Linked DNA regions of Homo sapiens. The protein of the gene in region 1 interacts with the protein of each later gene in a biochemical or structural test. Each region holds a gene or a part of one and is shown in the gene's direction. Other genes may lie near its edges.

Evidence for each region. Proteins that work in one complex are often made in the same cells at the same time.
Region 2: the proteins of HTR2C (region 1) and DLG1 interact in a test that uses a peptide from one of them, tested with the Homo sapiens proteins (2 studies listed by IntAct, with this or other methods).

What each region holds. Positions count from the first base shown.
Region 1 is NC_000023.11:114,582,078-114,585,829, forward strand, and holds the start of HTR2C (5-hydroxytryptamine receptor 2C isoform a precursor), read left to right. Parts: upstream 1-2,008; 5' UTR 2,009-2,582; intron 2,583-3,752. UniProt on the Homo sapiens protein: G-protein coupled receptor for 5-hydroxytryptamine (serotonin).
Region 2 is NC_000003.12:197,291,921-197,295,672, reverse strand, and holds part of DLG1 (disks large homolog 1), read left to right. Parts: intron 1-1,724; exon of another isoform or gene 1,725-1,795; intron 1,796-3,752. UniProt on the Homo sapiens protein: Essential multidomain scaffolding protein required for normal development. Recruits channels, receptors and signaling molecules to discrete plasma membrane domains in polarized cells.

The sequences.
Region 1 (3,752 bases):
CGGGAGCCGGGGAGCGAGAACAGGTTTTGGCGGATGCTAACTTCCACTCGCTGCTCGGCAGATCCATTTTGGCTTAGCAAAAATATCACAGGGATTTATATTTACATTTTTTGAAGTAATATAAATGTCTCAGCCTCTGACAAAATAAATACGAGTCCCGCCAGAAAAGGCAAGACTAAGCATTCCACATTCATAGAGTAAGGGGACACTTGGGGAGTTTTTAAAGATGAGTGCTTAATTATTTAAAGAGAAGACATACGTTTTCTCTTCCATATTTATAAATTACTGTTCGCTACCAAAGCATTTCTAAAGATGCGAGCGTTGTGCAGTCGGTGGACTTGGCAGCGCTGTCGCAGCCACCTGTGCGGCATCATACAGCAGCATTCAACAGATGCTTCAAGAAAACTGCGATGGGTTTTTGCTTTTCGAAACAGAACTTGGGTGCCGACAGTATGTTCACTGCCAAATTAAATTTCAAAGCCTGAATTCAGTGGCGATGGAGGGAATCAGAGGATTCCCAAAATGCCCCTTTTGGAATAGACTGGACAGCTCCTTTCACAAATATGGAAACAGAGGCACAGAGAGAAATGACTGTTCCTAGGGCATCCAGAATAAGGAAGGGGCCTGACCCTTATCATTGCTTCCACTTCCTTCTCCATCTCTAACTTTTGGGGCTACTGAGGCAAACTTCGGCCTTCAGAATAGCCGGCAGCTCCCACCCCTTTTGCGTTCTGCCGGGTTAGGTCCTCCAAGCCTCTCTCTGTACGGCCTCTCTGTAGCCTCTTCTATACACTCGCTGCGCTGCCGTCCGGTCCTAAGTAGCCAAACCGGAGGCTCGATCTTTTGCTTCGGTCCAGCTACCTCCGACAGGCGGGGAGCCAATCTCCACTTTTCCCACCCCGGTCCTCGGTACAGGGCCGAGAAACCTCGGCCGCGACCCGAGACCACCACCCCCGCTCGCCCCTTCGTTCCCTCTTAGGAGAGATCTGCTTCTGTCCCCATTCTCCGTGGGATCATCTCCATTACTCAGCTTGGTTTTGGTGCCTCTGAGCCAAGGGGGCCCCGTTCACCCTTCTCTGCGCTGCCGCCAGGACACCGCAGGCACCTGCCCGGTTGCGCCTGGGAGCCTGTGAAAAAGAGCTCTGCCTGACCGGTTAGAGCTCTGCCTGACCGGTTGCAGCTCGGCATCCCAGCAGTTGCCAAAAGAGAGCCTTTGTGGTTCACCTCTTGCTGCCTTGACCTTGCATTGACAGCACCCCTCCCTCCCCCACAACGACTGGGCAACCGACTGGCTGTGGGCCCAAGGCCCTGTGCCAGAGAGATATGTTCACCCCCTTGGAAACCCGTAAGAGCTGCCCTCAAGGTGTCTTTCTAATGAGGCCTGTGGGGTCAAGAAAGGAACTAAACTGTGCCTTCCCGGGGCTCGAAGGCCAAGAGCTTTTCTTTCTCCTTTGGGGTTAGGGAAAGGATGGGGAGACAAGGATGGGGAAGTGGGCCTTATAACAGGATTGTGGCCTTTGCGCACTCACCAAATGTTTGACCCTGTGAGTGCCTCAGTTGCTACTGTTGGAGGAATGGGCAAGAGTCGGAACAGAGACCCTTGAAGGGAGTTTCAAAGCTTGATGAAATTTGCAAGACTTGAGAATGCTGTTTGTTGAAATGAAATGTACAGGGGTGTGTGTGTGTGTGTGTGTGTGTGTTTGGGGAGGGGTATGCTATGAATCTTTGAGGGTACATTCTTGAGAAAGCCTTCCCTCTCTCTCTATCCGGTGCCATGGCTGATCCTGGTTCCCCCTACTCTCTAGGCCTTGTGAATCAGATTAATCATCACCCCCACCCCCATCTCCACCATGGGGTCTCGCGCCCCCTGCCAGCAGGCTCCAGATGCACTAAGAGACCGGTCCAAACAGGCCCGGGGGCCACGTAATGCTGAGTGCTGATTGGCTGCTCTTGGCTCCTCCCCTCATCCCGCTTTTGGCCCAAGAGCGTGGTGCAGATTCACCCGCGCGAGGTAGGCGCTCTGGTGCTTGCCGAGGACGCTTCCTTCCTCAGATGCACCGATCTTCCCGATACTGCCTTTGGAGCGGCTAGATTGCTAGCCTTGGCTGCTCCATTGGCCTGCCTTGCCCCTTACCTGCCGATTGCATATGAACTCTTCTTCTGTCTGTACATCGTTGTCGTCGGAGTCGTCGCGATCGTCGTGGCGCTCGTGTGATGGCCTTCGTCCGTTTAGAGTAGTGTAGTTAGTTAGGGGCCAACGAAGAAGAAAGAAGACGCGATTAGTGCAGAGATGCTGGAGGTGGTCAGTTACTAAGCTAGAGTAAGATAGCGGAGCGAAAAGAGCCAAACCTAGCCGGGGGGCGCACGGTCACCCAAAGGAGGTCGACTCGCCGGCGCTTCCTATCGCGCCGAGCTCCCTCCATTCCTCTCCCTCCGCCGAGGCGCGAGGTTGCGGCGCGCAGCGCAGCGCAGCTCAGCGCACCGACTGCCGCGGGCTCCGCTGGGCGATTGCAGCCGAGTCCGTTTCTCGTCTAGCTGCCGCCGCGGCGACCGCTGCCTGGTCTTCCTCCCGGACGCTAGTGGTAAGTTGGAGCCCCGGGCGGCATTGCTAGCCGAGACCCCAACGATTTAGGCGGGGGATGGGGTGGGGAGCGGGGACAGGTCCCGGATGGCTGCAGCCTGCAGGACCGCACTGGCCCTAGCGGAGGTTGGGGGGAGGGACTCTGAACGCGCAAATCGCGAGGAGACTGAGTCTCTGGAAGAAGAGAGGAGCTTAGGTTCCACGGAAGGAGCATAGAAGTCTCTAAGGGGATTGGGAGCGGGGGCTCGAGATGAAGACGCTGGGCGGAGGCGGGGGTCTAGAGAACCTGGCGCGGGGGAAGCCGAGACAGAAACGGAAGGCGGGGGTGGGGTCTCAAGAAGTGAGGAGTGGGAGGAGAGAAAGGAGGGAAACTGAACGCAATGTCGCTGAGTAGAGGGTCGGGCTGCGGAAGATGCAACTGAGTTGCAGGACCGACTACAATTTTAAGAAATCCGACAGCAGGCAAGTGGGAGGGGGCGCAAGGTTTGGGACAGTGTGTGCAGAGGGGGAACCAAGGATCCTTTATTATGTTCTCATTGAAAAGCGACCCTAATTTTTCTGGCGGGTCTCAGCGAACATCCGTAACTCTGGGGAGATAACACACTGCGGATCTGTGTTTGGTCTAACAGCTGTTAGCTGAATTTGAACAGCGCTGCTGGTGATCACGTAAGCTTAAGAGGAGAGGATAAAGGCATCCAGTGAACCTTTTTTTAAATAATTAATTAGCTTATCTAAGTCATTTGGTTACTGTTCTATATTTTGAAAAGGATTGCGAAAAAGTCTCCAGCGCTGCCTCTTATTCCTGTACTCAGTTTTACCTGACAAGCAGTCTTTACAGCGTTCCTCGGAATTGCTAAACATGAGAACAGGTTGCCGTTCCTGATGTCACATAAAGTTCGTCATTGCAAAACGTGTCTGTGTGTCTGTTTCTTTTCTGCGCCATGCCCTTTGCCTTTTGCTTCCTGTTGGGTAGTATGCGACTTGAGGTGACAAACACTTGCATTGTGTTTGAGAACCCTGTATTTTAAGCAACAGAGCTCCCCAACTCATAATTCAGCGAGTGACATTCGGCAGTTAAAAGATTTGGTCTGGAATCACTGCCAGTACCGCGCAGCTTCTTCATTAATATTACCAGTATAAGTCCCATCCAAGGAAGCCTCTGATTGCTGAG
Region 2 (3,752 bases), on another chromosome or scaffold:
TGGGTTTAAAGCCTTTTTTAAGTAGATAAATCATTTTTAAAAGCATCATCTCATATTTTGTGTATAATCTCCTATGTATAAAACAAGGTGACTTGTCTGGCTCTTTTGTCCAGGTACCTCAAAAAGTTTGCAAACCACCGAACTAGAAAGTTTGTCTCTTCCAATTCTAAGAATGAAGTTTTTTTTTTTTGTTTTAGTTATCAACTATATAACATTTTAACATAAGAAGACATATACTTAATTATATTACATTTATTTCTTCAGTAACTTCCAGTCAGATATGGCCTTACATCTATCTGTTGATAGAATAATTGTTGGTGTGATTTGAAGACTACTTTCAAGTCAGTGTGTCCTGTCAGGTACATTATTGATAAATGGATGCTCTCTACGGTTTTAGAATGAAAGATTTTTGTAAAGACCACTTGATGCACCTGAACAATTTTGAAAAATGTAACATTTTAATAGACTTTTAAAAACATAAGGATACATAGCACAGTGTAATGAACTGCCTTTTAACTGTTACCCAGCTCCAGAAATTCACATTTTGCCATTTTTGTTTACATTGATGGACATTTTTTACACATTTGAATTTCTGAGGTTTAAGGTCCGAATGGATGATCAAATTGGATTCCTCTGGAAAAACAGCAAAAAGCATTTTTTAGTTATTTGTTTTCTAAATCAACATTGAGCCTAGTAATTTGGTGCAGTTACTGTTGCAAAAAAAGTATGTTTTTTCGCAACAGTATAGAGATATATATATACATATATGTATAGATAGGCAGATAGATAGACTGCAGACTTTTCTTTGTGTGATGGCTGTAACTTAAGAAAATTAAATCGTTAGTGAAATAACAGAATCTACATTTATATTTCTGTCTAGATTGGGGATGGGTTTGCTGTGTTCAGAGACATTTTTGACCTATTCTGCCTTGCCTGTTTTGAATGTGTCTATTCTTACGTACAATTGAACTTTGATAGAGTTAGCTTTCTTCTCTTTTTTTTTTTTTTTTTTTTTGAGGCAGAGTCTCACTCTGTCACCCAGGCTGGAGTGCAGTGGCGAGATCTCCGCTCACTGCAAGCTCCGCCTGCCAGGTTCACGCCATTCTCCTGCCTCAGCCTCCTGAGTAGCTGGGACCAAAGGTGCCCACCACCACGTCCGGCTAATTTTTTATTTTTTGTATTGTATTTTTAGTAAAGACGGGGTTTCACTGTGTAAGCCAGGATGGTCTCGATCTCCTGACCTCGTGATCCACCCACCTCGGCCTCCCAAAATGTTGGGATTACAGGCGTGAGCCACCGCGTCTGGCCTAGAGTTAGCTTCCTAATTACTAAGTTTATATTTGTGAATCTTCTAATTTCATTGGTTGTGAATTTACTTTGACATTTAAATTTACTTATATTTAATGTTCTATAGGATGTGGTACTATATCACATTTTGGTGTAAGACAAGTAATAGATTTTAGGAGTTTTGAAATAGATAACGTTTAATAGAGGTTCTGTGTGTTTCCATGCTATAATTGTTGATACTACGGAATAAATACATTCTCTTGTGTTTCCTGAATAACTTTTAATACTTAGTCTGAAAATGTTTAGTCTGATAAGATTTTCTTTGTATTTTGCAACTCTACCATTGTTTTGAAACAGTGTCATAAATGTACTTTAAGCTTGTAAACTGCCCTAAGCTAAACCAGTTCATTGTGTCCATAGTGTTTGCAGAAAAATCCGACTCAGAAGACAGAGTGCCACTTACTGAAAGGTTTTTTCTCTCAGTAAGTGGCACTCTGTCTTCTGAGTTGGTACCTGTGGACCACTGGATTAAAGGAGAACAGGGGTCTTGGCCACCTGAGCTGTTTGGAGTCATTGAGTGCTTAGATTTTTCACTTCCTTAATTTGGAAATCACTTGTTTAGGCCGCAGTGAGTTATCTAGTTATCTGTTTGGGGTGCCAAGTGTCTTTGGATTTTCAGTCTGCATTGATCATTTATTGATTGATTCTTTGAACTGGTAGTTTATATTGACTTTTCATGCATTTAAAAAAGTTTGAGTCTCTAGGGGTTTGGTGTCCCCCCCTGTAGTTGATACATAGATTAGGTTCCTGTACTTTTGGATTATTCAGAGGGACAAGCATGTACGTACTGTATTATATTTGTTCTAAAATACCAACTGTTAAATATTTCAATATCTGGTATATGTCATTTTTAATTGACAGTGTTTCTGTGTTCTGACACATGAAATAGTGCATTTTATAATTGATACTCGCAATGTAATATAGAAATCATTGGTCTAGTGCTGATAGATACTTGGTAGTATCTTTGAAGGATGGCTTAAAGATTTAAAAATTATTGAAAGCAGAAAAGTTTTTACTAATTTTGAATTTCAGCTGATGTATTGTTTCTTTAGAGCTAAATATTTAAAGTTGTATCTTAACAAAAGTCCATGAACTGCACATTTGTTTAAAATTTACTCCCAAAACATACCTGGTGATTATTTTTGTATAAAGGAAGATAAAGTCTGCTTAATTTCACTCTGTGATTTAGGTGAGAGCAATTTGAAAACTTGCTTTTGTATTCCAGTTTTTTGTGCTTAAGTTTGAAAATTTTTTGAGTAGACGGGATATGGTTTGATTATAATCAGAGCCCAGGTATTCAGGTCCATAGTGGTTTCAGTTCATTCATGATTCTAAGGTGTGTGGGATCTGAGATGACACTGCTAGTCCATAGAGACTTCATACCAGTCTAAACCCCTGCAGTTATTTCTTACGGGATCAGAGAACTCATCTGCTTTCCTTGTGCATGAGAAAAACTGGGGCCCAAGATTAGGCTGGCTTTAGAGACTTGAGTAAGTTGAGTCATGTGATTTGTATATTTTGTCTGCAATAAATAAGCTTATTCTAATGCAGTGTTTTATTTCTGCAGAGATTTCAGAATGAAAGTGGATTATGTAATAATACTGTCCATTTATGAGTTTAGTTACCAGTTCATTTGTTGCCACTCTATTAAAATCTAATAGTTTCACTAGCCCTTATAAAAGGACATTACCCTATCTTTATTTGTAGATACTAGTTTCAAAAGTATGACCCCTTTGCCATCTTCACCATCTTTAAATGTACAGTTCAGGAGTGTGAAATGTATTCATATTGTTGTGAAACAAATCTTCAGAACACTTTCGTCTTGCAAAACTGAAATCCTATACCGAATAAACAACTGCTCCCCTTTCCTCTCACTTCCCAGCCCCTTGTGACCAACGTGCTGCTTTCTGTTTCAGTGAATTTGATCATGTTAGAAACCTCATAGAAGTATTTGTCTTTTTGCGACTGGCTTATTTCACTCAGTGTAGAGTCCGCAAGGTTCATTCATGTTGTAGTTGTTGACAGGATTTTCTTCCTTTTTCAGGCTGAATAATATTCCGTTGTATGTATATACCGCATTTTATCTAGCCATCCATTGATGGACAGTTGGGTTGCTTCCTCCTCCTGGCTGTTGTGAATAATGCTGTTAGGAATGTGAGTGTGCAAATATTTCTTCAAGACCCTGCTTTCAGTTCTTTTGGATATTTACCCAGAAATAGGATTGTGGGATCATACGGCAGTTACATTTTTAATTTTTTGAGGGCCCACCATAATGTTTTCCATAGTGATTGCAGCATTTTACAGTCTCACCAGCAGCACACAGGATTTCCAGTTTCTCCACATCCTTGCCGATACTTAATTTTTTTCCTTTCTTTTTTTGATAATAGCCATCCTAATAAGTGTGA